2 separate regions of the Homo sapiens genome follow, and region 1 is linked to region 2. The links come from fine-mapping of genetic effects on gene expression. A gene starts in region 2. The other region holds a variant in brackets. All regions are shown on one strand. Distances are between the middles of the regions. Region 1 overlaps MMP24-AS1-EDEM2 (MMP24-AS1-EDEM2 readthrough). Region 2 holds the start of PROCR (protein C receptor).

The links. PIP is the estimated chance that this variant, and not a neighbour inherited with it, causes the effect.
Region 1: its variant is fine-mapped to the expression of PROCR in cerebellar hemisphere (GTEx, PIP above 0.99). The same link has a PIP of 0.9 or more in cerebellum.

Annotation. Positions count from the first base shown.
Region 1 is chr20:35,259,434-35,262,336 of GRCh38, reverse strand. All of the region lies in intron 2 of MMP24-AS1-EDEM2 (MMP24-AS1-EDEM2 readthrough), which reads left to right. All of the region lies in intron 4 of MMP24 (matrix metallopeptidase 24), which reads right to left. Among named protein-coding and RNA genes, the nearest start is that of MMP24-AS1-EDEM2, 17 kb to the left of the region's middle. RefSeq lists enhancers at 1-301, 302-1,063. The variant A/C (reference allele first, on the strand shown) is at 1,684.
Region 2 is chr20:35,170,654-35,173,556 of GRCh38, reverse strand. It overlaps PROCR (protein C receptor), which reads right to left and starts at 1,485. Exons shown (of 4, transcript NM_006404.5): 1 at 1,333-1,485. The coding sequence starts at 1,402. The region is part of intron 4 of MMP24-AS1-EDEM2 (MMP24-AS1-EDEM2 readthrough); the gene reads left to right.

The sequences.
Region 1 (2,903 bases), 89 kb before region 2:
ACACATCCCCCTCTTCGAGAAACACCCACAAATGATGAATAAATACTAAGGGAACTCAGAGGCTGGCGGGATCCTCCATATGGTGAGCGCTGGTTCCCTGGGTCCCCTTATTTCTTTCTCTATACTTTGTCTCTGTGTCTTTTTCTTTCCTAAGTCTCTCATTCCACCTTACGAGAAACACCCACAGGTGTGGAGGGGCAACCCACCCCTACAAGAGATGAAAAGGCCCTGAGCTGGCTGGGCGTGGTGGCTCACGCCTGTAATCCCAGCACTTTGGGAGGCTGATCGGGGTGGATCACTTGAGGTCAGGAGTTCGAGACCAGCTTGGCCAACATGGTGAAACCCCATCTCTACTAAAAATACCAAAAATTAGCCAGATATGGTGGCCTGCGCCTATAGTACCAGCTACTCCGGAGGTAGAGGCAGGAGAATCGCTTGATCCTGGGAGGTGGAGGTTGCAGTGAGCCAAGATCGCGCCACTGCACTCCAGCTTGGGCAACAGAGTGAGACTCCATCTCAAAAAAAAAAAAAAAAAAAAAAAGGATGCCCTGAGGTGGAGGGAGGGAGTGGGGACAAAGAGAGCAAGTCCTGGCAAACTGGCAGTCAGCTTCAGGAGACCCCGGGCAGGGCAGGTGGGGCCCGGGCGTGGGCAGCTCTCTGCAGGACCTTGGTTGTGGAAGCAGGGAACTGTTGGCTAAGATTGAGGCAGGGATTCAAGTGTAGGTGAAAACACACTCCAGGTCCTGGAAGTGGGACACAGGATCCTGAGGGTGGAACTGAGGCAGCTCCATGGCACGGTGGTTACGAGCTTGGGCTCCTGAGTAGGACAGATTACCTTCATTCCCCCTGCCAGTTTGTGAATATGGCCAGCAGGGCTACCCCTAAGCCTCAATGTCCTCACTTGTAAACTGGGGGCATCAGACCTACCTCACCGGGTTGTGTGAGGTTGAATAAGATACACGTGAAGTGCGTGGTATGACACAGAATGGCAGCTGTTGTAATCCTATGTAAGATAGAAGCTTGGTTACTGGAGGAAGCCCATTGACCAGAAAGGAAGCACGAGGCCAGTGGAGCGCCAGCAACCAGATCCTCTGAAAGCCAACTCCCCTGGGCTTCTGTATTGTGCCTAGGACAGGACAAGGAGGCCTGAACTTAGGGGGATGAAGTAACCGCAGCTTTGGGGAGAAAATGCAGGGGGTAGGGAGTCAGGTAGGCTGTGGATCACCAGTCCTGACTCCTGTCTGCCCAGTGTCAGACCCTTGCTTGCCTTGACCTCTGGCATTTGTAGCCCCTTGAGCCCTGCCTCTTATCTTCTGGCCCTAAGGCATGGCTCGGCCCATTCCTGCCACCTGTAAGTCCAGGGAGGCTGCCAGGAACCTAGGAGGTGGTCTAGAGTCCTACTGCCCACTCTGGCCCCAGCGTCACTGGCCTAGGGACACATGGGGGTGGGGATTGTTTGGCCTTCCTGGCTTAGGTCTCTGGAAGAGAGAAGAACCCCATGGGGCAGACCCAGGCCACGGGCAGTACATGCCTCCCACACTACTGACACCGCCAGTGTCTTCTGTGAAGCCACCTTTGAGCAACGGAAAGGAAGGGGGATGGGCAAGATCAGTGCAAGGTTGGCCAAAAGCCTGGGGCTGGCCTTCTGCTGGCATGAGAGGGCCAGGCCGCCCCCAGCTCCTT[A/C]CTCAGGTCCTGGCCCCTCTGGCAGCAGGGAAGGGTGAGCTCATCGCTGAGCTCCATCCCAAACAAACTGGTAGAGCCAGCGGAAGGCAGCTCTGCTTCCTGGGGTCCAGTCCTGGCTGTGCTCCTGGGCTATTCTATGACCTGGGACAAGCTGTTCAGGGCCTCTGTCTCCTGAGCAGGCTCTTCCCCAGGGGCTGTCCACAGGGAGCTCAGCTGGGAACCAGGGAACACGGCTCTGAGCACTGTGGGAGACTCAAAACCTTTGTCCGCAGCCTTGTCTCTTGCTCTTTTAACCCCTGTTCTGGGTCTGCAGAGAACAGGAGTGACCCCTTAAAGGAAAGAGGCCTGTGGTTTGGGTCCAGGAACCAAAAGGAAGGGAAGAGCGAGGGAGCCAGTATCCTGCTGCACAGAAACCCAAGAGAGCCCTGAGGGGGAGACAGAGGGAGCAGGGCAGGGGCAGGAGGACTCCCTGAGCTTGTGAGGTGAAGGCAGAGGTATGAGGAGGAGAGGCCTGCTATGAGGACCCCATGCTCCATGGGCAGGAGGCTGCTAGGGTCTTCACTCTTCAAGAGGGTGAGCGGCAGGGAAGCAGAGTGGTCAGGAATGCAGTCTCTGGGAGCCAGACTGCCTGGTTTTGAATCCCAGCTCTGCCATGTCCTAGCAGTGTGACATTTTAAATTCTTCCTCTGGAAGATAGAAGGAACAATGGCACCTTCGTCATAGGGATGTGGGTGAAGATTCATGGGGCAGGGTGTGTAATGCGCTGATACCAGCTCCTGGTACAGAAGTATTACCCTTCATTAGCAGGGTCCTGTTGAGCTGTGTGTGAGCACCAGCACCCCTGATAGGGTGTGTTCCTGTAAGTCCCTGGGCCTCCGAGCAAGTCCCCAGCAGTCTACTCGGCTACTCAAGTGGACCTTGTCTCTGCCTCATTTCTTTCTTTTAGGATCTCCATATTTGGTCGTTCCCATCTCATTAACTCCCCCAGCCCCACGAAAGGTGATAGCATTTCCCTTTGCCTCTGTTCTTCTGCCAGTGCTGCCCCTTCCCCTGGAATAACCTGATTCCTTCAAAGTTCAGCTCCATGCCTGTCTTCCAGGAAGCCTTCCATGACTTCCCAGCTGGCAGTGAGTGCTCCTTCTGCTGTGCCCTCCCAGCAGTTTCCCTGAACTGCCTTTATGGCACTGACCGCTTCCTCCCCACGTGATTGCCACTAGTGC
Region 2 (2,903 bases):
TCAGGAGGCTGAGGCAGGAGAATCGCCTGAACCTGGGAGTTGGAGGTTACAGTTAGCTGAAATTGTGCCACTGCATTCCAGCCTGGGTGACAGCACAAGACTCCATCTCAAAAAAAAAAAAAAAAAAAAAAAAGAAAAAAGAAAGAAAAGCAAAGAAAAAAAGACCCAGCTCAGTTGCCCTCTTCTTGGAAATTTTTTTCTGATGCCCCACGAGACACAGTGTGTCTGTTTCAGTGATCCCAGACCACCATATATTAGTGTGTATCTCACGGGATACTACCTGGCTGTCTCCAAACACACACAGGCCACACTGGACTCCTCTAGGCTATGGAACCATGCTTGGTAATCTCTGCTTCCTACACCCAGAAAAGAGGCTGGCACAGAGTTGATGCCCAGAGCACATTTGGATGAGTCCGGGGTTGTAAATCTGTGTGTGTGAGTGGGTCCTGTCTGTGTTTGCATTTGAGAAGTTGTGCTTTGTATCTGCAGATGTGAATAAGTATATTTATGGATAACCCTAGACATGGTCCTTAACTACTCTGTGACCCAGTTTCCTCCTCATAAAATGGAGATAGTAATAATATTACCCACCTTTAGGGGTTTGTGCAAGTTAAATGGGTCAATACATGTATTAACCATAGTGAGCACTCATTGAATACTGGTTATTATTTGCTGCCTCTCTGAGGGGGAGACTGAAGTTACGGGGATTGTGAGAGAGGGGAAAGGAGGCCCCTGTGCAATTATAATGGAGGGTAATAACTCCCTTTTCTGCTTAAACAGGGCCACTTCAGTAGCCTGATCGCCCATAAGTTCTATTAGGCACAGCATCTCTTTCTCCCCAGTTCCACCAGCTGCGACCAGTCTCCTTCCATTTTCCCTAGCCTCCCCTAACCTCTCTCTGCCCCACTCTTCCCCCACTTCTTCCATCAGTTTTCCCAGGGTCTTCCCATTCCCTCCATTTCTCTTCTCTTCTGAGCCTCTTCCCGTCTCCCCTAGATGTACCCCTATCTACCATCACCCTCAGTTCCCCTTTCTCCCCTCTCCCTGGGGCTGATTCTCCTACCCTCTCTGCTGGTTTCTTTCTCATGTTTCCAGTCATCCTGTTTCCCCTAGCCTCTTTCATCTCCCCCTTTTCAGGGGCTTAAATGTACTAACTCACCTTGGCTTTGGGACACGAACCAGTCCCCAAGACTCTGCCTGCCCTGTAGAGAGATCTAGCCAGCTGCAGACACAGATGCTGTGAGATAAGCTCTCCTGTGGTCTTGCCATGTGCCCAGATAGACTGAGATTCTCCAGAACCATCCTGAGGCAGGAGATGTGCCCCCGACTCACCATCTGAGGCGTCTTGGCTACAAAAGGCCCAGCCAGACAGCAGCAGTATCGGCAGCAATGTTGTCAACATCCTGAAGTTGAGGCTCCGGACCTGGGTTCCTGGCTCGGGCCGGCTGCGGGCTCCGCTGGCTGCAGTCTAGGGAAAAGAGAAGTGAGGACCGTCTGGGAGGGGCGGAGTCTGGGCAGAGGAGGATGGAAGGAGGCCAGGAGATGGGAGGAGGAAGAGGCTTATAAAGTGTTATTTCTACTGTGTCTCATTTCCTACTAGGGGGCCGGCCTCCCTCCTGCCCTCCCTCTGCCCCGCCCTTCATTGCTCCCTCCTGCCCAGACCTGCCTTTTCCCTTCTCCTTGGGCTGCTTCCTAGGAACCAGGAACAGGGAGCGGAAAAGGGGGAGAAGGGCTTGGTGAGAAGTCCTGCCGGCGCTGACTCAGGGGGTGGGGCATCTACTTTCAACTTAGAGCACACTCCTGGGAGTAGGATCAGCAGGTTGCTGATGGGGAGATTGAGGTCCAGAGAGGTGCAGGGACTTGCCCAAAGTTTATATATCATGGTGGTGACAGATCCAAGATTAAAATTTAGTTTTCCAGTATAATGGCTACATTTTACCAGAATTTTAAGTAAATAACAATTACATAATCCGGGATCTTGGTCTCAGAAGTAGTCATAAAATGAGTGTAAAGCAGTTCACTGCAGCATGTTTTTAAAAAATAGGAGAGAATTATGAGCAATCTGTATAAATCTCAGAAGATGATTGGTTACCTAAAGCAATCTTTTTGAAACTGAGGTCATAATTTATTAGTGGACAATGAAATCAATTTAGCAGGTCATGGTTACCATTTTTAAAAAATGAAATAGGACAGAATACAAAATTTCAGCGCGTCACCCTTAGTAAGAGAAAGTGTTATGTCATGAAATATTTGCTCAGTTGTATATGTGTGCTTTGGTTTTGTGTGTGTATGTTTCTATGATGAGTTTTGGATAGCAGTGTAAAATGCGTCCCTTACTCTAGGAAGCAAGTAGAAAAGCTTTAAAGTCACTCCTCCGAGCATGCTGCTGGCACTTTGGGAGGCCGAGGTGGGCAGATCACTTGAGGCCAGGAGTTTGAGACCAGCCTGGCCAATATGGCGAACGTCTCTACGAAAAATACAAAAATTAGCTGGGCATGGTGGTGCATGCCTGTAATCCCAGCTACTTGGGAGACCGAGGCATGAGAATCGCTTGAACCTGGGAGGTGGAGGTTGCAGAGGGCCGAGATCACACCACTGCATTCTAGCCTGGGTCATGCGGCAAGATTCTGTCTGAAAAAAAAAAAGAAAAGATTTCACTTCTGTTCAAATAATACATATGTAATTTCATCCTCATATATATATATAAAATTTATTATTATTTTTTTGAGACAGGGTCTAGCTCTGTTGCCCAGGCTATAGTGCAGTGAAGCAATCACAGCTAATTGTAGGCTTGACCTCCCGGGCTCAAGTGATTCTCCCACCTCAACCACCCGAGTAGCTGAGACTAAAGGTACGTGCCACTGTGCCACCACGCCTAGCTATTTTTTTTTATTTTTACTAGA